Linked DNA regions of Homo sapiens. The protein of the gene in region 4 interacts with the protein of the main gene of each other region in a pairwise test. Each region holds a gene or a part of one and is shown on either strand. Other genes may lie near its edges. The genes, in order: AKAP19, SPART, CSTPP1, PRKAR1A, PLEKHF2, DTX1 and PDE4DIP.

Region 1 (3,500 bases), on a different chromosome or scaffold from region 4:
GTGGCTGTAACAAATCTAAACATGCGTTAAAATTCATAGACTTGTTCACCAAAATGAAGTCAGCTTTACTGTATGTTAAAAATTTTAAAAAGGTATTTTTTAAAACCACAATATAATTACCCACACTAAGATTGCTAAAATTTAAAAAACCCCAGTGCTTAGTGTTGGTGAGGACATGCAACGCATATATTGCTGGAAGGAATGTAAAATGGTACAACCATTTTAAAGAATTCCTTGGCTGTTTCTTAAAAAGTTAACCACACACTTACCCTGTGAACCAGCCATTTCATTTCTAGATATTTATCTAAGACAAATGGAAACACAGGTATTTTAAAAATCTGTATACCAATATCCATAGCCTCTTTATTCACAATAGTCAAAGCTGGAAACAACCCAAATGTCCATCAGTAGGCAAATCAAATGGATAAACAAATTAGGGATATCCTCAAAATGGAATATAACTTGACAATTAAAAAAGGATGAACTATTGGTATGTCAAACCACATGGATGAATCTCAGACATGTTGAGCCAGATAAAAAAGATGGATCATATTTATATGAATTTCAAGATTGGACAATAGTGACCCTATGAATAGAAATCATAGTAGTGATTCCCTTTGGGTGGGAAGAAGTAAGGACTGTTTGGAAGAGGCCCTGAAATAACTTTCTAGGCTATTAAAAAATTCTATATCTTAATTGGTATGTTAGTTACATGAGGTATATGTTAAAACATGTTAGATTGTACCTTTAACATCTGTTTACTGTATTTCACTGTAATTTTTACTTTAATAAGATATAAGAACAGTTTTTGAGAACATTCTGGGGCACCTAAATCCAGGGGACTGATGTATTTTATCTGAAAAAGACCGCCTATGGGCAGCATCCAGAGCGGACCAGCTCCCTGTGCTGGAGGACTCCAGTGTGAGGCCTGCTGCTTCCTTTCTACATTGGCCTGAAACCAGCCCAACTCAGTGGTCATAATCTTCTGGGCCTACCGAAGAGCAAAAGCCTACTTCTAGTTCTTCCAGTTGCCAGTTCAAGGGCTTTATCTGTCACTTCCTTTGGGAACAGGTAGAGTGCTTTGATTTAGAATGATGGCAATAAATGAGAAACCAATTTGAAATTGGATGTGAGAGTCTTTTGTCCTTTATTGTGTTGTTCCTGAACTTGTAGCTAAGGAGGGTAGAGTAGAGAGAGGGATATATAACCTTATCCAAGGAAATAGATTAGTAATACTTCATCCCCACCACACTTTAATTTGCACATATTTCTAGAGTATAGGACATCAAAAATACCTAGATATTAAAATATTTATGTTGTTAACCTTCAGCTGGTTTAGCCGTATCTATTAAGGATAGAAAACAACTGTTCTTCAGTTACTTATCACATCTGCTTACTAATTTATGTTATGTTTATCATCTCTTCCCATCTAATAGATGAAACAGGCAGATAGGTCTGGCTCTTCCACTTGCTGACCCAGAGTTCACATGGCAAATAAGAATGGAGCTGTCACTCCGAATTCCAGCTTCTTCTTGGAATAAAAGTGCTCCAACGGTACTTTATCCAATCCAGCCTATGTTTTTAAGTGTTAACTTTCTCCCTTTCTTGAACTTATAGAACCTCTGTCCCATCTTTGAAGTTAATTCTTGCCGGTAAAGACCAAGATAGCTCCTTCCCAGGGTCTCTGTTTCTTTCTTCTCATTGCCCCTGTCCTTGACCTGATCTCTGGGCTATCAGCAAGAACGTGATGGCCCAGACCTTCCCAGTCTCCCAAACAGGTCTCTGGGTACTACTACCCCAGGACTAGTTCTCAAATCTGGCCTTCAAGTCCTGTGTTGGGAAAAATGACACTGATATATTCATGTAATTAGGTAATCATCTGGTCCAGTAACTAGCTATCTAATGGAATTGCTCATGGCATGCTGAGAAGGTGCAGTTGCCCTAATTGAATGGATTAGTAAACTGCCCCCACATATTTGTTAATCAGATTTTCATGCTATAGTTTCCATCCCACAGAAGCCTCAAGATTTATCATGAATAAAAAAGCATCATCCTTAAAGTAAGAGCCAAGAGGGAAAAAAAAGTTCATGTGAAGCATCTACTGTTCATAATAGCAGCTGTTTAAATACTTTTAAATACTTAAAAGGCAGTTACAATACAGTACTTTAAATACTTAAAAGGCAATTACAGTATAAGCCTGCACACCAGTGAAGAACAAACTTCGTATAATTTCAATCACTCCTAATAAGATAGTTGATTCATAAGGAGGAAATAAAGTTTCAACAATGTTAGCCATTAATGCAAGTCAGTGGTTAGGCAGCTATGATTAGCCTTAAGATAGCAGGTGTGATCAGCTGTCCTGAATTAATTTTTAGTCTGTTATTCATTTGTCAGGTTGGGAAGTGACTATGGTCATCAGTTGAAGGTGTGATACATTAAATGCTGCATATCAACCAGGAAGTGTTTTGGCCTTCTTGTCATTTTAACTGGCTAATTACAGAAATATAAAATGTTTAAAAAACACAGTTTCTCAAAAATATTTAAATCAATCTTTTATACCTTAGTTCTCAAGATACACAAAAGAACTATCAGAGCATCCCTTAACCATCCAACCAGTCTATATTGAGTGTCTACTATGTGTTTAGAACCTGCGCCCATAGAATGTAAGTGCTTCCAAAATTAACAAAATCAAAAGGAGAAAGAGAATATAATTTATTCAGGCTATAAGTATTAAAATCTAACAGTGCCCTTCCACCCACCACTCCCTCTCCCTCTGTCTCCTACCCCTCAAATCACAATGCACAGACACATATATACACATGACAGTCATACATGAGGAAAAGAAAGCCCCTTTACATGTTTCAATGTTATTTGAAGGCTCAAAGCTCTAAAAATATAGAATGAGCCCTGACACTATCCTCAGGAAGAGATCTAGCAACAACTGGGCCTTCTGTTGGGTCCGTCAAAGAAAAAATGTGATTTACTGCAGCTACCCACCTTTTTTCTCCTAGAGCCAGGGTCTCAGTCCATCGCCTGGGCTGGAGTACAGTGGCCAGTTGTGGCTCACAGCAGCCTCGAACTCCTGGGTTCAAACTATTCTCTGGCTTCAGCCTCCTGAGTACCTGCGACTATAGGCACGTGCCACCATGCCCACGTTATTTTTTATATTGTTTGTAGAGACAGCCATATTGCCCAGGCTGGTTGTGAACTCCTGGCGTCAAGTGATCCTTCTGCCTTGGCCTCTCAAAGTGCTGGGATGATAGGTGTGAGCCACCATGCCTGCCTAGCCCTTCTTTATAGTTCATTTTGTAGCTGTGTTCCTCCATTCTGGGTGCAGTGTCATCAAAAGGAGTAAATTCCTTGGGAATATGCCAGTGGAAGGTATCACAAAAAGGCCATAATTTGGACATGAGTTGGACCCAAACACAAAACCAGCAAAAAAAAAAAAAAAAAGTAACTTCTAAAATCTGCTGTGTAAACGAATAGGCTGCTAACTCCCC
Region 2 (3,500 bases), on a different chromosome or scaffold from region 4:
CTTTGAAAGCTCATTGTTAAGTGTTAGCCAAAAAAGAAATATTTTAAATTGAAAGTCTCTGCAGAGTAGGGTAATACTTCTTCCATCTTAGGGGACACTGTTCTTACATGTTTTTTCTTTTCCCATCCCTCTCCCACTCCTTTCCCCACATTTCCACTGGCTGAGGACCTTTTGTCCTCACTAGAGAAGGCCCTTCCATCCCTCTGTTCCTCTGGTGAGCACTTCTGTCATTCAAGCTGCGAGAACATAAGCAAAGCAAAGCAAAGGGCTAGGGCCCACTGTCATGAGAAATGGCCAAATTATCTGGGCCTCACTCTTCTTCTTTTAGATTTTCTCTACTCATGCATTTGAGTGTTCTCATGTTTTTGTCATTCAGGTATGTGTAGCAAGCTAAACGGTGCTGAGATCCAAGAGTTTGGGTTTAGGATTCAGGAAGGAACAGGACCCCCTGACTAAAGCTTTTAGCCTAAAGAAAGTAAGAGTTCTGCCTTGGTGTTTGAGAGGCAGTTTCTTTGGTTTCCATTTTGTGATGTTTCTGTCTTTCTCCCTCAAGATTTCATGGGGAAAAGAGATGCCTGGCCTAAGGCAAAAAGAACAAGAATATCTGGGTTCTTTGGCCAAATTCTATCTTAATGGCACCAAAACTAAAAATTAATACCTAACAGTAATATACTGTGGTAAGTAACATATAGAGATACTGTTTGTGGTCATCTTCAGAAATTATCAGCTGCCACTAAATCTCAGGCCTTCTAGGTACTAGGTAGTGGCAGCATAGAGTAACGCAGAACTGTGTCACTAAGTATTCAGGAAGAAAACTGCAGGTATAAAGTTAGCTTGAAAGTTTATGACATGGCACATTTAGCATCTGAATATCAAACTCCTTTTATTTTTTTCTGGTTGATGTTATTTATTAAAGTGTTCAAAAGCATAATTAGCCCTAATATTGTGCAATTTTAAATTTTCTTTTAAAAAGGTGCTTCCTGGGTGAGTTGGGGTTTAGTCAAAGGTGCTGAGATTACTGGTAAGGCAATCCAGAAAGGTGCTTCTAAACTCCGAGAGCGGATTCAACCAGAAGAAAAACCCGTGGAAGTTAGTCCAGCTGTCACCAAGGGACTTTATATAGCGAAGCAAGCTACAGGAGGAGCAGCAAAAGTCAGTCAGTTCCTGGGTAAAGTAATTCTAGATAACTTTACTTTTTAAAGTTATATTTAAAATAATGTCTTAATCCAGGGTTAATCTGCATGTTCATTTAGATGGTTTAATCTCAAGAATAAAGAATTAGGACAAAGCAGTTTCTCTTTGTTATTCATAGTGAGACCTGCGGACCAGCAACATCACATCGTCCTATCTGGAATCCTTAGAAATGCAGAATTTTAGGGACAGACACACCTACTGATTCAGAATCTGCATTTTCACAAGATCCCTAGGTGATTCTTATTTGCACATTAAAGTTTGAGAAACTGGTTAAAGGGTTGTTCTGATGTGTTGGAGAGGAGAATGTGTGTATCTTTGAAAAAGAGTTCTGAATGTAAAGTCATGTATTGTTTAACGCAGGAGGTAAGTTCTAAGAAATGTGTCATTAGGTGATTTCATCATTGTGTGAACATCATAGCATGTACTCACACAAACCTAAACGTTGCCACTCCACACCTAGGCTATATGATATAGCCTATTGCTCCTAAGTACAAACCTATACACCATGTGACTGTACTGAATACTATAGGAAATTGTAACACAATGGTAAGTATTTGTGCATTTAAACACATCTAAACATAGAAAAGGTGCAGCAAGAATGCAGTATATAAAAGATAAAAAATGGCATAAAAACTGTAGAGAGCACTTACCAGAAGTGTCACTTGCAGGACTGGAAGTTGCTCTGAGTGAGTCACTGAGTGAGTGGTGAGTGAATGTGAAGGCCTAGGACATTACTATACACTATTGTAGACTTTTTAACACTGTACACTTGGGCCACACTAAATTTATTTTAAAAACAAAGTAATTGCACTATGATGTTATGGCGGCTGTGGTGTTACTAGGCAGTGGGACTTAATCAGCTCCATTATAATCTTATGGGACCATGAAATGTCTGAAATGACCAAACCATCATTATGCAGCATGACTGGATGTGAATCCTTGAGTCCTTCTAAGGGATATGACACATTCTTTCAAGGAGAGCAGTTTACTGCTTAGCAGTTGAGGGTCAAGAGGGAGGGATCTGTTGTTTGAGAAAAACTGACTTAGTGATTCTGGTGCCAACCTTCCCAAGCAATGTACTTCTAAATCCTTGCTCTTAGAGAATCACAGCACTGAAATTTGGTGTTTTGAGGTGGGTAGATAGGACCTTAATGGATTACCATTAAATTTAGTAAAATTATCTTTTTTGGTATTTAGTATTTTTTGAATCAGATTTTAGATTGTTTACTTTTATTCACCGAGATAACTGAGATATTTATCAGTAGAAAAATATGAATACGCTAAGCTGGAATAAGCTAAAAGTACCAACCAATCTTGCATTGCAACAGTCAGATAGAAAAGGTGGCTGGTTTTCTCAAGCAGAAGTGCAAGAGCATGTATATCTGAGAGGCAAGGTTATAAACATCAGTAGGCTCTGCAAGCACAGCTTTAAAGCAAACAAAAGCTTTCATTTAAAAAATAACCAGTCTATGCTTCATGCCTGTAGTCCCAGCTACTCAGGAGGCAGAGGCAGGAGGATCACTTGAGCCCAGGAGTACAAGTCAAGGCCAGCCTGGGCAACATAGTGAGACCTCCTCTCTAAGCTTCATATCCTTAAGAAGAAATTGTAACATTATATAGTAAAACAATTTAGATGTTCATTTAAGAATGTTGCAAGATGAGTGGTAAAAATCAAGGGAATAATATATTTTTCCTAAGTTTTCTTTTTTTATGGTCATATTAGTTGATGGAGTTTGCACTGTAGCAAATTGCGTTGGAAAAGAACTAGCTCCACATGTCAAGAAGCATGGAAGCAAACTTGTTCCAGAATCTCTTAAAAAAGACAAAGATGGGAAATCTCCTCTGGATGGTGCTATGGTTGTAGCAGCAAGTAGTGTTCAAGGTAACAAAGGGCCCAGAATTTTAACTATGAAGGTCCGTTTGCTTTGGACTAGATTTACATCGTTTTAAATATTATTTTTACAGGATTTTCAACTGTCTGGCAAGGATTGGAATGTGCAGCTAAATGCATCGTTAACAATGTTTCAGCAGAAACTGTACAAACTGTCAGATACAAGTAAGTTGAATTTTATTTTAATGACTAAATCTCTGTTTTGTTGTTGTTGTTGTTTTTCTGAGAGGGAGTTTCTCTTGTTGCCCAAGCTGGAGTGCAATGGCGCGATCTTAGGTCACTGCAACCTCCACCTCCCAGGTTCAGGCATTTCTCCTGCCTCAGCCTCCCGAGTAGCTGGGATTGCAGGCACACGCCACCATGCCCGGCTAATTTTTTTTTTTTAGTAGAAATGGGGTTTCACCACATTAGCCAG
Region 3 (3,500 bases), on a different chromosome or scaffold from region 4:
CCCATCAAGCATTTTTCCTTTGTGTTACAAACAATCTAAATGTACCCTTTGAGTTATTTTAAAATGAACAATTAAGTTATCATTGACTAGAGTCACCCTGTTGTGCTATCAAATAGCAGGTCTTTTTCATTCTTTTTTTTCTTTTTTGTAACCATCAACCATCCCCACCTCTTCCCCCAGCCCCCTGCTACCCTTCCCAATCTCTGGTAACCATCCTTCTATTCTCTTTGTCCATGAGTTTAATTGTTTTGATTTTTACATCCCACAAACAAGTGAGAACATCCAATGTTTGTCTTTCTGTGCCTGGCTTATTTCACTTAACATAATGATCTTCAGTTCCATTCATGTTGTTGCAAATGACAGGATCTCATTCTTTCTTAGGGCCAAATAATACTCCATTGTGTATATGTACCACATTTTCTTTACCCATTCATCTGTTGATGGACACTTAGATTGCTTCCAAATCTTAGTACTCTAAACAGTGCTGTAACAAACATAGGAGTACTGATATTTATTCGATACACTAATTTCCTTTCTTTTGGGTATATACCCAGCAGTTGAATTGCTGGATCATATGGCAGCCCTATTCCTAGTTTTTTGAGGAACCTCCAAACTGTTCTCCACAGTGGTTATACTAATTTACATCCCCATCAACAGTGTAGAAGGGTTCCCTTTCTCCACATCCTCGCCAGCATTTGTTATTGCCTGTCTTTAGGATACAAGCCATTGTAACTGGGGTGAGATGTTATCTCATTGTAGTTTTGATTTGCATTTCTCTGATGATCAATGATGTTGAGCACCTTTGCTTATGCCTGTTTGCCATTTGTATGTCTTGTTTTGAGAAGTGTCTATGCACATCTTTTGTCCATTTTTTGATGGGATTATTGGATGTTTTCCTATAGAGATATTTGAGCTCCTTATATATTCTGGTTATTAATCCCTTGTCAGATGGGTAGTTTGCAAATACTTTCTCCCATTCTGTGGGTTGTCTCTTCACTTTGCTGATTAGAAATACACTTAAATCATTAAGTGATTGGCACAGCATCCTGTAGAAAGAAAACTGCAGAGGAACATTAGCCTAGATTCCATGAGAAAAGCCAGCCATGAAAAAAAACAGGCTAGATGAACATCAGCGAAAGGAAATCAAAGTGAATATTTTGAATAAAGGAGAAAGTTAAAAGAGAAACCTACAGAAATAGATCTAATAGATCAAACAAGCAGTTGTTAAGCTACTGTAATCAAAACTATTCATGAGACATCACTGGACAAACTAGCTGCACCAAAGGCATGCTCCAAAACATGTTTGGGCGGCCCACAACCAACCTACCAAAACTAAACATTCACTGCCACTACCTAATCAGCATTGTCCTGCTCTGTTCCTCAAGTATCCTGCCTGCTTCCAAGCGCCTCCTCTGGGTTCACTGTATTAGTACAACATTCATGTACTTACTATTCAGTGAAGAACCTGGCAATTCCATATTGGCTAATATCTTCCCTGTTTTCTAGCAGCTGGCACACTGCATCCTCCATGTAGGTGAGGACATGTCGCTGAGCTGCAATCAAATAGCAAGAGAGAAAGAGAAAATGAGAGAAAGATTTTAAAAAGAATGATCCCAATCCTAGTAGGAGGTCATGTGTAAGGCAATCCAGGTGTTGGCTCTGTCTGATGACACTTCATCAGTGGACTGGAATAGGCAAAGCAAACTTGCTGACCCTAACTGAGCTATAGTCTCAAAGGATAGATTGGGAGATGATGTGAACATGACCAATTGCCATTTGACTGGCTGTTAGTATTAGCATCAACCCTTCATTCTTCATCTCAATCACAAGGGTGGGTTGAAGAGGAGATTTAGCACCATTCAGCAGATACACCTGGAAGTTCTTTTCTTTCTACCTCCTTCTATTCTTTTCCATTTCTGCATCAGAAACTTATCCCAGGGAGTTAGTAATTCCATGCTTGAAGCATGGATGGTATGATTGTAAAGAAAACTCTGGCCAGGCACAGTGGCTCAGGCCTGTAATCCCAGCATTTTGGGAGGCTGAGGCGGGTGGATCACTTGAGGTCAGGAGTTCGAGACCAGCTTGGCAACATGGTGAAAACCTGTCTCTACCAATAATACAAAAATTAGCCAGATGCAGTGGCTACTTCCTGAGTAGCTAGTAATCCCAGCTACTCAGGAAGCTGCGGCAGGGGAATTGCTTGAACCTGGGAGGTGGAGGTTGCAGTGAGCCAAGATCATGCCATTGCACTCCAGCCTGGGCGACAGAGCCAGACTTCATTTCAGAACAGAAAAAAAAGAAAACTCAGTTAATTTAAATTAGAAAAAAAAAAAAAAAGTCACTGGAAAGGTTTAAGGACCATGAAAATTTTCGTACTGGTGTATATATAAGTTATTAACTTTGGTAAATAACAAGACCATGAAATCTATCTGGCTTGGTTTATTAGATGTCATGTTTTCTGCATTTGTTGTGACTTGGAAATGTGTGAGTTAATCATGGGCGTATAATAAAAAGTATGAGTATTAGAGTGAGACAGACCTGAGTTTGAATCATGGCTCTGTCTTGGTAGCTTAATCTTGGATAGTTACTTAGTCTACACCTGTTTTCTTCTTTATCAAGTGTGAAAAGCAATATAATTTAACTATGTTTCTCAAAATATGGTCAATCAATTTCTTGATCTGAATCCCCTGGGATGCCGTTTAAAACGCAGATTTATAGTCTGGCACTGTCCCAGATTTAGTGACCTTACATTTTTTACTACAGCCCAGTAATTTTTAACAAGTACTCCTGATGCTTCTTATGTACTCTTAAGTTTAAGAATCACTGGTTAAGAACCTGGGCTTTGGATTACAGAGAGTTGAGAGCTCCATTCTCAGCTCTGCCACTTCCTAGTTATGTGACCATAAACAAATTATTCTTCAAGCCTATTCTTCATGGTAAAATGGGGATAATAATGGTACTTACATTATAGGGTTATGAGAAATAAATAAGATAATACAGGTAAAACACCACTATGTGTTTGGTACATAGTACGTGATTGATAACATGTTTCCTTAAAAGCCTGTCTCAAAGCATTATTGGGAGTTTACTCAGTAAACAACATAGGCCAGAACTTCTTAGATGTCAGGTACTCAAATACTTCTTCCCTTTCTCTGAATTTTATCCTTAGGTATGACAGAGGTTTCCTGACAAACTTTACATAGAAGCTTCCAATTCAGTGTCCACATTTACCATAAAAAATTCAGAAAAATACTTTCATCTGGAGCAGTGAGAACAAAAAACCCCAAAGTGATGAATATCCTTCCAAAAAGCAATTCTATGAAGTTGCTGCCAAAGTAGACATTTACTTCTTTCACAGTTTCATTCCTCAGGAAAATATGATGGAATTACCTAAAATTTATAAATATTGGTATTTCAAAAAACTATTTCTGAAGTCCTGGTAGTCTAGTGAAGCTCATAAAACAAGTAAGTTTACCTGCCAACCTGAGCCCAAAAGTCTT
Region 4 (3,500 bases):
TGGCCCTGCCCTAGAAATCTGTGGAACTTTGAACTTGAGAGAAATGATTTAGGGTATCCGGTGGAAGAAATTTCTAAGCAGGAAAGCATTCAAGAGGAAGCAGAGCTTGAAAAATTTGCAGCCTGACAAAGCAATAGAAAAGAAAATCCCATTTTCTGGGGAGAAATTCAAGCCTGCCGCAGAAATTCACATAAGTAACAAGGAGCCAAATGTTAATCACCAAGACAATGGGGAAAATGTCTCCAGGGCATGTCACAGACCTTCAGGACAGCCCCTCCCATCATAGGCCCAGAGGCCTAGGAGGGGAAAATGGTTTCCTAGGCCATGCCCTGGGGCTCCTGTACTATGCAGCCTCAGGACATGGTACCCTGCGTTCCAGCTGCTTCAGCTCCAGTCTTGGCTAAAAGGTACAGCTCTGGCCATTACTTCAGAGAGTGCAAGCCCCAAGCCCTGGTGGCTTACAAGTGGTGCTGGGCCTGTGGGTGCACAGAAGTCAAGAACTGAGGTTTGGGAACCTCCCCCTAGATTTCAGAAGATGTACAGAAATGCCTGGATGCCCAGACAGAAGTTTGCTGCAGGGGCGTGGCCCTCCTGGAGAACCTCTGCTAGGGCAGTGCGGAAGGGAAATGTGGGGTCGTTTGGAGCCCCCACACCGAGTCCCCACTGCAGCACTGCCTAATGGAACTACGAGAAGAGGGCCACTATCCTCCAGACTCCAGAATGGTAGATCCACCAACAGATTGCACCATGCACCTGGAAAAGCAACAGACTCTCAATGCCTGCCCATGGAAGCAGCCAGGAGGGGGGCTGTACCCTGCAAAGCCACAGGGGCGGAGCTGCCCAAGGCCACGGGAGCCCACCTCTTGCATCAGTGTGCCCTGAATGTGAGACATGGAGTCAAAGGAGATCCTTTTGCAACTTTAAGATTTAATTACTGCCTCGTTGGATTTCGGATTTGCACGGGGTCTATACTCCCCTTGTTTTGACCAAGTTCTCCCATTTGGAATGGGTGTTATCTACCCAATGACCCCAGGAAGTAACTAACTTGCTTCTGATTTTACAGGCTCATAGGTGGAAGGGACTTGCCTTGCCTCAGATGAGACTTTGGACTTGAACTTTTGAGTTAATGCTGGAATGAGTTAAGACTCTGAGGGACTGTTGGAAAGGCATGACTGTGTTTCAAAATGTGAAAACATGAGATCTGGGAGGGGCCAGAGGTGGAATGATATGGTTTGGCTGTGTCCACACCCAAATCTCATCTTGAATTGCAGTTCCCATAATCCCTATGTGCCCTGAGAGGGACCTGGTGGGAGGTAACTTAATCATGGCAGGGGGGTTACCCTCATGCTGTTATCATGATAGTGAGTGAGTCCTCACGATAGCTGACGGTTTCATAAGGGACTTTTCCCATTTTGCTCTGTACTTCTCCTTGCTGCTGCCATGTGAAGAGGATGGGTTTGCTTCTCCTTCTGCCATGATTGTAAGTTTCCTGAGGCCTCCCCAGCCATGCTGAATTGTGAGTCAATTAAACCTCTTTCCTTTATGAATTACCCAGCCTCGGTATGTCTTTATTAGCAGCATGACAACGGACTAATAGACTAACATACAAATTAACACCTAATACACAGAACTATGACCCACTAACAAGTTGAAAATCTAATTACTTAAAGGTCCAGGTATCTATATTCAACCCTGGAAGGAATGTATACATGTGAACAAAGACCCTTGAATTACAGCAAAAACCATGTTGAACTGTGACTTTAATTATTAAAAGTTAAAGAAGCTGAAACACATTAAATCTAAAAATTCCATCTGCAAAGAAACCATTTTAATAATTATTTATTGCTTTCCACCTTTGTTAGTCTTTAAACAGTACTGTGGCAACTACAAGCTTTGAAACTAGCATCACACATTCAACACTCCCTATAAAAAGATACACACTTAATGTCTCACCAACTTAATCCTCTCATTTGATGGTTTCTATTGATGTCCAAAGAAGAGGGATCACCTTACAGTGACCCATTTCAAAACCGGATCTCCAGGAATGCACTTGACTTCAAAACAAGCTACATCTATGACCTGGCTCTACAATACTTCCATGATTTGGAAATTGCATAAATAAGAGAAAGCCAGAATATCTACTATAATTCCAAGACAGCAAAGCAACATTCACAGTGACTAGTTGTTTTTGTTTTTTTTTTAATTATTCTGATCATGGTACTAAATACAAATTTTAACAATCAGTTTTTAAAGAAAATAGAAAATACCTGATCAATGAGCTACCCAAATACTTTTTAAAGCTTAGTACAGATTCTTTTACTAATAAACTATACTGATTATAAGAAACTATAAAAACCAATGGAAAATAAAGCAAATTATTTCTATTATACAATTAGATAATCATATACCAAAAGAAATGATTCATTTCTTTTGGTATATGAATCATTTCTTTTGGTATATGATTCATTTCAATTAATTCATAATCATTATGAACCACCTCATAACTTCCACATGCACAAGAAAATCAGTAAGTTTCTCTCACTGATTTACAGAAGCGAATCACATAAACTATTCAAAATATTTGGTAACCCAGACTTTTTCATTCATCGTTTCTTGAGGGAGATGAATTGAAGCATTCATTTGCTTCAATTATCCCTGATGTAAAATTATCACTTTGCTTAGAAAAACATATGCCATATACGTAGGTCACAATGACATACAAGCAAGGAGGAAGAGCAAAAAAGAATAAAAATTGGATTAATTTTTTTCAAGGCGCAACAAGTCCTGACCAATAAAATGGAGTAAAATTTTTGAGGAACATCAATATCAATATCTCTACAGTAATTTATCAGATATACTCTATACTAAAATAGACCGAATCTAATTGAAAATTTCTGATATATCAGTCACAAGCTAGATTCATGTTTCATTACACTAGTTTTAAAAGTGGGATAAGATTTACTACGCTTACTTGCTTTGTTCAAAACGGGAGGAGCATTAACTGCCTTTAAGAACTATAGAATTTCTTATTCATAGAACTGCTATACTAGTTCTGATCAGTTTTATCTGTTATAGTTCTACGCACTAATTTAAAAAGTTACAAAGAATTGTTTGGAAACCCTTTATTAGCCAAGTACAGTTAGCATACAGGTTCATTTTTCTGATAAATTCTACTAATTAAGAATTTTTAAATTACTACAAATGCCTTAACTGTATTTCTTATTTGAAATTGTTTTAGACTTTTTATTTAGTCAGATTCCTTTTCTTCCAAAAAATACAAATTAGTAACATTCCAGTTATTAAATGTAACAACTGTCACAATCACCTCATCATCTCCCCACATTTATTTTTACCTTCTCCAACCTCTCAAAGTATTCCCTGAGGAATGCCATGGGTCTCTCAGGTCGAGCAGTGCACAACTGCACAATAGAATCTTTGAGCAGCGCTTGAATGTTATGCTTCTGGACGTAGAGCTCACATTCTCGAAGGCTGCGTGCCTC
Region 5 (3,500 bases), on a different chromosome or scaffold from region 4:
GCATAGCAGATAGGATTTAGGAAATAACTGAACACATGGATGAAAAAGGACTGTAAGATGACTTCAAAGGCTTAAGGGTAAGCCACTGGGCAGATGCTAGCTTTGTTTTAGGAGAGAGAAGAAATCAGTTTGGGACATGTTTATCTTGAAGTCCTCCAGGGCATCCACAAGACAAACACATCTGCGGGACAGAGATGCCAGGATGGGCAGGGAGCTCCAGGACAGAGAGATTTGGTAGTCACCCACCTAGAGATGCTGGCTGATGCTGGAAGAAAAACGAGAGCAGAGGACTAAACTTTGGGGAACCCCTAGTTTAGAAAGCAGGAGGAAAATTTAAGGGAAAAAAGAACGGGACACAAAGGAGCACAAAGCACCTTTTCAACCTGCTCTCATATGTTTCACAACTCTCAGAGACTAAATAACCTGCCAAAAGGTCACAATCAGCAGTGGGACACATGGGAAAAAAAAAAAAAAATCAAGGACTAATGGCAATGTGTAACAATAAAATATCTGAAATTTTTACCCACAAAAATTTAACCTGGAGAAATAAACTGGAGAAAGGGGGTGGAGGGGGTGTGGCACATAAAAAGTTTTCCCTCTGGCATTAACTCTAATAGTGAAAAATAAAACCTAAATTTCTAGCTGAGGAATAGTTAAATGTATCACAAAAAGCCATCATAAAAGAAAAAATTTACTACCTAAACTTTTAAAACTTCATAATTGGGGGAAGAACATTAAAGTAATATGGCAAAGGGTCAACATTTATTGATTGATTGACAGGACAGGGTCTTGCTTTGTCACCCAGGCTGGAGTGCAGTGGCACAATCTCAACTCACTGCAACCTCTACCTCCCAGTCTCAAGCGATCCTCCCACCTCAGCCTCCTGAGTAGTTGGGACTATAGGCATGCCACCCTGCCCAACTAATTTTTGTGTATTTTGTAGAGACGGGGTTTTGCCATGTTGCCCAGGCTGGTCTCAAACTCCTGGACTCGAGCAATCTGACCTGCCCATCTTGGCCTCACAAAGGGCTGGGATTACAGGTGTGAGCCACCGCACCCGGCCAACATTTGTAATATGCAAAGGGCTCCTGTAAATCCACAAGAAAAGAGGAAAATATCCCAACAGAAAAATAAGAAACAAATGTCAATTTTAAAAAAATGAAAATGACCAGTAAATTTAAAAAATGACACTCAGTCCCAATCAAATAAAAATTAAAATGATATTCATATATTACTCACCTAAGATGTGGTAAAAATGGACCCTTATATTCTTGACAATACTGTATATACACTGGAACAACTTTTCTAAATGCCATTTTGGCAATAGAAATGCTTTAGAAAGTTTATACAACAATTCTATTTCCAATAATACATACAAAAATTAAAAGTGTACAAAGTTGTTCACATGAAGTTCACTGTAGCTTTGTCTATAATATAGAAAAGCTGGAAACAACCTAAATATTTAACAATAGGAGACTAAATAAATTATGGCACATCCATTAATTTTTAGGCAGTTTTTTAGAAAACACAATATTTAATGTGAAATATTGTTAAAGCATTTTATTAAATAAAAGTTTCTAAATAGCACATATAGTATAAGCCTACTTGTTATTTAAAAGTGGCTGATATGCACCAAAAAGTCAGTAGTGGTTATCTCTAAGCACTAGACTAATAATATTTTGATACGCCTAATTATCTTATAATGAACACATTCTCTCATAGACAAAGCCTTTTAGTTTGGGAAGAAAATACAAAGAAGAATGTGTAGAAAAATATAAGTATAAAAAGTAAAATACAGTTATATGTACAAGTAATAAAAATGTGAGCAAAGAACACAAAAATCTTTCTTTTTCCCCAACTGTTGTTTAAATGAAACAAGTACAAAGAATTAAAAATAGTTCCACTTCTGAAAAAGGGGCGGGGGGGGGGGGAAGATGAAGAAGTTGGTGCAAAGAAGAAAATAGAAAATTCACATCATAAAATCTTAATCATTTTAGAAGGAAGTAAGGTCATCTGCTCAACATGTTTCGAGACTGGGGTTAGCAACCTGACTGGAGTGAAAAAGCAACAGAGAAAATAAGTCAACTTGGGGATAAGAAAAGGATTAGAAAGTAACTAGTATAAAGCAGGTAGAAAACAAGTATGTAATGATCACCAAAAGCGTGACTTTGGGGGAGAGTGTAGGGCAGGGACAAAGGTAGAAAACTGACCAGTTACACCCAGCAAAGGTCAAGGAGAGGAGGGACTATGTGGTCTAGTGAGTTCATGGTTAGAACATGAACTACAGAGTTCAAGGTTGAAAAGAGGGAAGACAACTAATGGCCTAGGAGGGACTGGAGGTGACAATAAGGACAAAAAGCTGCTTAACCAGTTATGACAGAAAAGAGAAAGAGAAAACAGACCCTTGCATCGCCATCTGGCCACAGGGTTTAAGACCTGAGGTAGAGTGGTTCTGAATGATGACAAGTAACATGGTCACAACATGCAGGCTGCTGTTGTAGAGTAGCAGTGGGGGTCACCGGAGTTAGTGAAGTGTAGTTCCAAATGTGGCCATTCTGGCCAGAAATGAATGTAACCCTTACTTAACCTCTATGCACTTCACTTTCCTCAGCTGCAAATATTTAATACATCCTTTCTAGCCTGACTGATAGGAATCTGGCTGGCAGCTAACCCCTCTGCATTTTACTCAACTACAAAATGAAAAGCATAAGAAAGGAGATGGGAAATTGAGTTAAATCAAAGGTTCTCCACCTGACTGAACACTAAAATCGGGGATGTTTTAACAAAGAGGCAAAATTACCTTTGTTCTGTCCCCAAACCCAGTAATTCTGATTTATTTGTCCTGGGGTGGGATCCAGGCAATATTCTTTTTAAGTAGCTCTTCAGGAGATTTTAATGTGCAGCCAAGGCTGAAAACTGAACTAGGTATTCCTACAGGCTGCTTCCCTTTAAAAATTTTTAAATTCTATGATTCTATATAATTCACTGCCACTCTGTTCATTTGTTAAAATAATAGCTACTATCGTATTCCAGGCCCTTCCACAAACATCGAATCTTGGGTGACCCTCACGCTAACACTGAGGCAAATATTTCTGTGCCCATTTCACAAATGAGTCCAGTGAAGCTTACAGAAGTGAAGCGGCTTGTTCAAGAGTCACAAGCCAGCAAGGAGCTGAGTCAGGACAAGGTTTATTTGTTCCAGTCCATCCTACATGCAACTTGCTTTCTTTCCAGTGCATTCACAGCAACTATTTGAATGCCTTTTATTCTCTTCTCAGGACCTCCCTAAATTGAGCACATTAGTTTGTGGTTTACAGTTTGACAGGGGAGAAAGTTATCTTGGGTGGGGGCAGGAAATAAACCCCGAATTCTATAGGCATTATAGAATTACAAAACACCTTAACCTAGAGAGGTTTTCCAACTTAAAACAGCACTGTGAAAGTGTATCCATGAAGTATTTTTTATTCAGTTAAGTCAACACATACATTGCTTTTAAATAT
Region 6 (3,500 bases), on a different chromosome or scaffold from region 4:
GGTCTTGGGGTGAGGGGGTTGGCTGCCACTGGCAGTCGGGGAAAGGTTTGAGAATGGCTTTCTGCTCCCAGAGAAGAAGCCACATCTTCCCTGGGGGGTCATTTACATCCCCTGCCACTGGGACAGCCGCCTCCGAGGGCCTCACCCAGACCCTGAATTTCCCACCCAGTTCACACAGCTGGACAGAGGTGTAACTCAGCCACTTCCGCAGAAGCTCCCAGCTCGCTCCCTGGCCTCATATGACTGGAGCTGGGGAGGGGCACCTATCTGCCTGGTATCTCCCATGTCGCTCTCCATGTGCTGCTGGAGGGGTGCATGGCAGCCTCCTGCCCCTTCTGCTGATGGGATAGCTGAGGCCGAGGGATGCCAGCTGGGGACCATCCAAAGATGCCATACCCGAGGCTGCAAGCCTGGCCTTTTCTGGTGCCCCCAAGCTGGCCAACAGGCTGGAGTGGCAGGTGGTGGCTGGTTCTGGGATCTTCCAGCCTGCCTCCTTCCCTGGAAACCTTGGGCTTCACTCAGCCCTGGTCCCTGCCATGAGAGGAAGCACTATCTGAGGACACTTAGGCTGGAGACCCTTAGGCTGTTACCACCCAGATGGGAGGAGCTTTTCCCATCACCGGGGAAAACACCTCCAGAATTAGACACCAACTGGGGACAGTGAGGCCCAGAGAGGGTGAGTGACTTCCCCAAGGTCACACAGCCTACCAGTCCTAAGCTAGAGCCCAGGCCCCCCAGACAGGCCTTAGGGATAGAAAACAAGGTGACATTTAATGCCAGGGCTGAGAGAACCCCTTCCCCCTTCCCCCTTCTCCCTTGAGAGCGCTCTTGGGGCTTGTTGTCAGGGTCTAGCCCAAGGCAGGGACAGCCTGCACTACCCTGGAGGCCTCCAGGGCTCAGCTCCTGGTTACAGGACCCTTTGGGACCCTCTCTCCAGCCTCCTCACTGGAGACTAGGGCTGGGCCTGATGCCAGGGGCAAGAAAGACTATGTGTAGGGGCAGGGAGCGGCCCATCTCTGGTAGCAGCAGGTCCAGCTAATCCATATGTGGGTGCTCCCCAACCACCAGTCACGCTGTCTGTATTTCTACTATTGCAGACCCATGGTCTCTGGCTGCTTGGCTAACTCCAGAAGCCTGTTTTGAAACTAAATTCATCGCTCGTATTTGGTAGTCATTGGTGGCTTCTCAGTACCAGGTCCTGGGCTGGGTCTTGGGGACTCAGAGAGAAGGGCAAAATCCATTTCAGAGTCTAATCTATCCATTTCAGATCAGTTTCAGAGTCTAGTGAAGGTGAAGGCAAATGCATATCATGGAAATAGCCTTTGAACCCTCTGACTCATAAGGACAACAGATACAGACCTAAAACCCAGCTTGGCCCCTTGCTGGCTGTGTGACCATGGGCAAATTCCTTAACGTCTCTGAGTTTATTTCCTCCTCTGTAAAATGGGGATAAGAATAGTCCCTAGCTGGGAGGGTTGTCATGAGGACATAATGAGATACATAAATGAGATATGTAGATAAAAGCTTGGAGGATACTACTTTGCACGTAGTAAGCACTCATGCTCGAGGAAGAAAAAGATTTAAATGCCTCACTAGGCAGATGCACGGTGCCTTCAGCCATGGGATGTGCATGGTGTATGCCTGGAGCCTCTGAGAGGAGGACTTCCTGGAGGAGGAGTCCTTTGAGAGTGTGTGATTTGGGTAAATAGAATGATAGGAGGAACACTTACAGGTGGAGGAAACAGCAGGGGTCCTTCAGCAGGGTCCTGGAGGAGGGTCTCAGGCCTGGGTGGCAGAGGGAGGCTGTGATGGGAGATAGGGGATGGGTAGAGGAGGCCTCGTGGGGCCCACTGGGGCCTGGCAGGCTGGGCTGCCAGCTGCTGCCCTTTAGCAGCCAGGCCCCGGGGGACTCACAGCCACGCTGCAGGACCAGCCTCATTAATCACGGGCCCTTGGAGCTGGAGCAGGTGGGGCAGGGGCAGCCTCAGGCACTTCCTACAGTCTGTCTGGGTTCCCTTCACCCAGCCAGCGGGTGTCACCCCATTTTACACATAGTAAAGCTGAAGCTCAGAGGGTGGGGAGCCGCCTGCCGACGCTGAGAAGAGACGGGTCTGAGATCAGATCCAGGTCTGCAGCTGGGTGCGCACGGCCCTTCCCAGGCTCGCCCGGGCCACCGAGTACCTTGGACAGCACCATCAACGACCCGCCCGCGCCTTCCGGGCTGGGGGTGGGGATGCCCGGGACAGACCCCCTCGCAGCCCTCTCCCTCTCCTTCTCCTCCCCTCACCCCTTTCTCCTCCTTCTTCCCTCCCTCCTCCTCTCCAGCTTCCTCCCATCCCCCGCCTCATTCTTCCAAAGGAGCTGCGGAGTCTGACCTGGAGAGGAAGGAGGAGATGGAAGCTGTGATGGGAAGCGTGGGGGCTGGAGTAGGGGAGGTGATGCGGAAGTGACAGGTAGCGGGGCTGTGGAGGGGATGGTGAAGAAGGTGGTAAGGAGTGAAGCGTGAGGGGTTGGGAGGGGAGATGATGGAGGGTGTGATGAGAGGGTGACGAGGAGGGGCCAGGACGGGGAGGCCACGGGGAGGCCAAGGGGTTGGGGCAGGACTGGTCACAGTGGCTCCAAGTGCCCATTCAGGCAGTAGGCAATGGGGTTGAGGTCCCTAACTCTCTCTCCAGTGTGATGTTCTTGGTGCATGGGGGTGCCTGGGGTGCTCCCAGGCCTCCGCCCGCCACCTCTGTCTCTCCCTGGGCCTCCATCCTTCCACCTGGCTCTGGAATCACAACCGGTGGTAGCCAGTCCCCAGGACAGCTCCAGTCCCTTAGATAGTCACCCCCATGAGCCCACCCAGCCTCTGGGTTGACACAGACACCCCCAGCAGCCCCTAGCTGCCTCTGGCTGACATCAACTGAGGACATGGGGCCTGGAACCTGGAAACAGCTACCTCGGGGAATGCTGTTGGTGAGGGCCAGGCTCTGGGTTCCCATCCCAGCTGCTTACTAAGAATCATGGGGTGTGTAGGCCGGGTGTGGTGGCTCACATCTATAATCCCAGCACTTTGGGAGGCTAAGGTGAGTGGATCACCTGAGGTCAGGAGTTCGAGACCAGCCTGGCCAACATGGTAAAACCCCCTCTCTACTAAAAATACAAAAATTAGTGGGCATGGTGGTGGGCGCCTGTAATCCCAGCTACTCGGGAGGCCAAGGCAGGAGAATCACTTGAACCCGGGAGGTGGAGGTAGCAGTGAGCTGAGATTGAGCCATTGCACTCCAGCCTGAGTAACAGAGTGAGACTCCGTCTCAAAAAAAAAAAAAAGAATCGTAGTGGGTGGGGAGATTTGTGACCTTAAGTAAACCACACTCCCTCCCTGAGCCTCTGAGCCTCTGTTTCCTCACCTGTAATATGGACCTGATGATAGTACTGAACTTGTGTGATTGTGGTCACTATTCATTCATTCATCAGGAGTTTCATGAGCACCTACTGTGTGCCAGGCACTGTCCGGG
Region 7 (4,089 bases), on a different chromosome or scaffold from region 4:
CACTTCTGAACTCTCAATCTTACCTGTGAAGGGAGAGTGACAGAACTGATATCAGGACTAAAGCAAGGTCCTCTTCAGAGTTGGGAGTTTGATACCAGCCTGAGGCGAGGTTCTCTTAAGCTACAGGTGTGTAGGCCTGTGCTAGTCTGCATGGGGAATTCCAGAGTCTCATTATTCCTGCCTAATGGCCTCATCCTGAACTGTCCTCAGCTGGAGGTATCCGAGGCTGTGAAGGAGGAAATCCAGTTCAAGAGAGTTGAGAAGACTGTAGAATCCTTCTTTGAATTGGAAAGAGCCACAAAGCACAGGGTGCTTTAGGCCTTCTGCCTGGTCAGTAAGAGTCTGTTCCTCTTATCCAGGGAGAATCAACAGAAAGGGAACTTCTGGAACTGAGAACCAAAGTATCCAAACAGGAGCGACTCCTTCAGAGCACAACTGAGCATCTGAAGAACGCCAACCAGCAGAAGGAGAGCATGGAGCAGTTCATCGTCAGCCAGCGTAGGTTCCCTGAGAGGGAATGGGGGAAGAAACAGGCAGTCTTCCCGATGCCCCACTTGTGCTGCAGATGAGCAGTGACCAGGGGGGCTTGGGGATGTTGGGAGTTGAGACTGATTTGATGTCCCCAAACCTCCTGTACCAGGAGCAATTGTGGCTGCAGAGGGAGGGGAGGACAGGGGGTGGATAGAAGGAGACTCCAAGCTGAATAGCCAGAAAGAAATAAATGCTTTAGAATTCTCATGCTAAGCAAGTAGGGTTAATTTCTGCTGGTGGTTTCTACTCTGTGGTGCTCTTTTGTTGTTTCAGTAACCAGAACACATGATGTTTTAAAGAAGGCAAGGACTAACTTAGAGGTAAGGAAACTACTGCACCAGTCAGAGGCACCAAGCCTGTCCCCCACCCATCACCATCCGTTAGCAGATCTTGTAGGTGACCCTTGGCCTGCTTTGGCCTTCCAGGAGAAGACTTGGGGTCCACTTGCAAGATCACAGGTCCTCAGTGAGCATCCTGCTAGTTTCTGTCCCCATCACCCTCCCACCCCGTCAGCTCCTGCCCCTGTATCTTGGTTCACTCTCACATTGTCATCATCTCTCCTTTTTACTCCAATTTTTCTTCTTTGAGGCCAAGTTCAGAGACTGGAGAAATGCAATTCAGCTGACTCTTGAAGTCATTAGACATTCGGGAGTCTGCCTCTGAATGAGCTTCTAGTAGAGGGATCTTGAGGCCAGTTATGTGTTCTACTCTTCATGAAAAAGTAAAAGCAATTTGCAACCTAATAAACTGATTTCACTGCACATTCCCGGGTTAAGAACAGCAATTTGATTTTGCTATATCTTTAAGTAACATGACAAAAGAGATCTGTTGGGTCTCATTGGTCTAAAAGCGAATTTGTTAATAAATAACAACTGAACCTTCAGGGAAAAAATGTTATATATGTACCAGACATTATCTACATTTACTTAAAACACTAAGTGTTAATCATTCCCTAGGAAGTGCTTTGAAGAAAAACTTGAGGTATATGAAATGGTTAAAAATCAGAAACTAAACCTTTTAACATGGACATCAAAGCTTTGCCATAAGCAATTCAGCATATTCCTAGAAATGTTTCTAATCCATAACCTGAGAGAATGTTGATCTCCATAGTGTGAAAATGACTTGGGCCAGTTTAACTTGCTCTTTTTTTTATTTTTTCACTAATTCCCTTTTGTTTTTCTCTGATAATTCTTCTCTTTCCTGAGCCTCTTTAGAGCAGCACTTACAGGATTGCCTCTGTAAAGCCTTATTCCTGTCCCAGAAAAGGTAATCCAAAAAGTCTCTAGTATCCACTAAAAGGTAACCCAAAAATCTCTAGTATCCACTGGCTTTCTCCAGTGTGGAAGCTTTCCCCTCCACCTCCCATAGATCACTGGAAAGGACCCGAGGCCTCGGTTCTAATCCCTGGCTTATCACTAACTGCTGTGTGGCTTTGGCTTGTCCCTTAGTCTCTGTGAGACTGCTGCACCCTCATCTGTCAAAGATGGAACTGGACTTAGTTGAGCTCTGAGGTCCCTGTGGACTTGGCCCCTCCACACCCTCATTATGGCAACTGGACATAAACTTAACAGAGGGCTTCCCAGCAAAATGTCCTCTTCTTCCTACAAACAGGCTGTTTCTATATGTGCATGTTTCATGCTAAGCACTTCTTTCTTGGGTGGACATGGCAAAGGCCTCTTTCTGCTGAGACAAAGTGATTTGGAGAGTCACCTGGCCCCTGAAGGGGGAGTGGTAGGATCCAGCCACCCAGTGTGCAGTGAATTGGAGCAGGGATCTCAGCACACAGGGAGGTGGGGAGGCTCCCCCTAACCTCGGGCACCTGTTGCTCCTCCAGACTGCAGCGCATGCTCTTAGCTCATCCTCTTAACTGGCTCTCACCGTGCTCCTGGCTTTGGTCACCACGTAGCTCTCACTCCAGCTTCAGGTAGCCATCAGTAGGGCCTGGCAATATACACTGATTTGGTTTGTTTTATGTTTGTCTGCAGGTGAAATCCCTAAGGGCTCTGCCATGTACTCCAGCCTTGTGACCCTTGCCTTCCAGGAACCATGCAAGAAGCGCAGCCACCAGAAGTCCTTAAAACAGCAGGAAAGGTGGGCCTGTCCCCCTTTTGTGCAGCTACCTATCTGCTGAGGAGCATCTGGGCCTCATTCCTCCAAGTCCACGGGAGGGTCCAGAAGAGGGAGTCAGAGATGTATCCTGGTGGAGCTGGGAGAAAGGCAGAAAGCCTTTCTGACGGCTATGGAATACGATTAGCCAAGGTCCACTTGGCCCAGCACTAAGAAAAAGATGCGTAGTTTGCACAGAAGGTTTTGTGATCCTGCCTCTCAACAGCCCCAGCAGCTTGGGAACTAGCAAGAGCACATTTCTTGCCTCATCAGCTGTCCTGAGATGGAAAACTCAGTGAATATAGGACCCTGATTCCGATGAAAGGGGCACGTGGTCCCAATGCTGGAGCTCCTCTGGCAGGTTCTAAAAGCACACTACTGAGCAGCGGTGCCCTGCCGGACACTGCTGGCGGGGGCTCAGTGAGCACTACTCACAGATCCACACCTGACCCTGTTGGGTCGAGTCAGGCTGGGCCTTGGTCTGCACTGTAGCACCTGTGTTCTTTGAGTTCACATCATGAATGTGGTGACTTCCCAGATACCATCTCAGGCTTAACCTAGCACATCCTATTTCTTTTCTTCTATGATATCCAAATTGGACTGACCTCACTTCAAAGTTGCTGTCCCATTTTGTCACCCTATCTTATCTCGGGGAAATTGCAGACTGATGGCCAGACCAACTCTGTTGAAATTCTTGCATAGAGCAAACCTGTGCTCATTTTTAAGTGGCATGGGAGAGGCCCCAAGCCTAGTAAAGCCTAGTCTGTGTCTTCACAGTGCTGGTAGAATGTGTTTGTGTGTATAAATATATGATATAGATTTATATATGTTGCTAACGCCATATATTGAAGGCCAACATAACTGGTGGACAGGGTGGGTGACAGAAAATGAAAGTCTTTTTGGTGATTGTTAAAGCAAAATGTGTATAAAGAAATAAATAGTTTTTCTTTCACTGCTTTGTTTCCCATTTCTGCACCAATCCCTTGACAGTATAAAGAACTGGAAAGAGAAAATGGGAAAGACAAACTGTGTTTAAGAAGCATATAGTCTAATGCTTGAACTCTAACTTTAAAAGATTAAGGTTTTCCTTCTTTGTCATTTTGTAAGAATCCCCAGTCTGAAAATATGAAAGAATGGTTCTTAAACTTGGTGTGCCTGAGAAGCAGCTGTGGAGATTATAGGAGCTACCTCCTGGTCTCCAATCCCAGGAGATTTAGTTGGTGTGAGCCCTAGAATCTGCATTTTTTTAATATAAGCACCCCAGGTGATTCCATTACATGTGGGCTTCAGATCACAGTTTAAAAAACAGTGTTCTATAACATTGAATCAAAACTAAAACTACATTTAAGAACCTTGAATCAAAAAGTATGTCATTCCATAAACATTGATATAAAAATTTTAAAATATTCCTTGGGAAAAGTTCTTAGCTACATGCTTTTGATTCCCAAGATT

The links.
Region 1: the proteins of PRKAR1A (region 4) and AKAP19 interact in binary tests that used the Homo sapiens proteins (3 or more experiments, as listed by UniProt).
Region 2: the proteins of PRKAR1A (region 4) and SPART interact in binary tests that used the Homo sapiens proteins (3 or more experiments, as listed by UniProt).
Region 3: the proteins of PRKAR1A (region 4) and CSTPP1 interact in binary tests that used the Homo sapiens proteins (3 or more experiments, as listed by UniProt).
Region 5: the proteins of PRKAR1A (region 4) and PLEKHF2 interact in binary tests that used the Homo sapiens proteins (3 or more experiments, as listed by UniProt).
Region 6: the proteins of PRKAR1A (region 4) and DTX1 interact in binary tests that used the Homo sapiens proteins (3 or more experiments, as listed by UniProt).
Region 7: the proteins of PRKAR1A (region 4) and PDE4DIP interact in a two-hybrid assay, tested with the Homo sapiens proteins (one study listed by IntAct).

The regions. Positions count from the first base shown.
Region 1 is NC_000002.12:190,187,363-190,190,862, reverse strand, and holds part of AKAP19 (small membrane A-kinase anchor protein), read right to left. Parts: intron 1,129-3,500; exon of another isoform or gene 1-1,128.
Region 2 is NC_000013.11:36,311,895-36,315,394, reverse strand, and holds part of SPART (spartin), read left to right. Parts: intron 1-973; coding exon 974-1,168; intron 1,169-1,312; exon of another isoform or gene 1,313-1,427; intron 1,428-2,917; coding exon 2,918-3,076; intron 3,077-3,159; coding exon 3,160-3,250; intron 3,251-3,500. UniProt on the Homo sapiens protein: Lipophagy receptor that plays an important role in lipid droplet (LD) turnover in motor neurons.
Region 3 is NC_000011.10:46,985,261-46,988,760, reverse strand, and holds part of CSTPP1 (centriolar satellite-associated tubulin polyglutamylase complex regulator 1), read right to left. Parts: intron 1,554-3,500; coding exon 1,451-1,553; intron 1-1,450. UniProt on the Homo sapiens protein: Regulator of the tubulin polyglutamylase complex (TPGC) that controls cytoskeletal organization, nuclear shape, and cilium disassembly by balancing microtubule and actin assembly.
Region 4 is NC_000017.11:68,515,430-68,518,929, reverse strand, and holds part of PRKAR1A (cAMP-dependent protein kinase type I-alpha regulatory subunit), read right to left. Parts: coding exon 3,354-3,500; intron 1-3,353. UniProt on the Homo sapiens protein: Regulatory subunit of the cAMP-dependent protein kinases involved in cAMP signaling in cells.
Region 5 is NC_000008.11:95,136,785-95,140,284, reverse strand, and holds part of PLEKHF2 (pleckstrin homology domain-containing family F member 2), read right to left. Parts: intron 1-3,500. UniProt on the Homo sapiens protein: May play a role in early endosome fusion upstream of RAB5, hence regulating receptor trafficking and fluid-phase transport. Enhances cellular sensitivity to TNF-induced apoptosis.
Region 6 is NC_000012.12:113,063,230-113,066,729, forward strand, and holds part of DTX1 (E3 ubiquitin-protein ligase DTX1), read left to right. Parts: intron 1-3,500. UniProt on the Homo sapiens protein: Functions as a ubiquitin ligase protein in vivo, mediating ubiquitination and promoting degradation of MEKK1, suggesting that it may regulate the Notch pathway via some ubiquitin ligase activity.
Region 7 is NC_000001.11:149,029,428-149,033,516, forward strand, and holds the end of PDE4DIP (myomegalin), read left to right. Parts: intron 1-359; coding exon 360-498; intron 499-804; coding exon 805-851; intron 852-1,745; coding exon of another isoform or gene 1,746-1,797; intron 1,798-2,516; coding exon 2,517-2,558; coding exon of another isoform or gene 2,559-2,662; 3' UTR 2,663-3,589; downstream 3,590-4,089. UniProt on the Homo sapiens protein: Functions as an anchor sequestering components of the cAMP-dependent pathway to Golgi and/or centrosomes.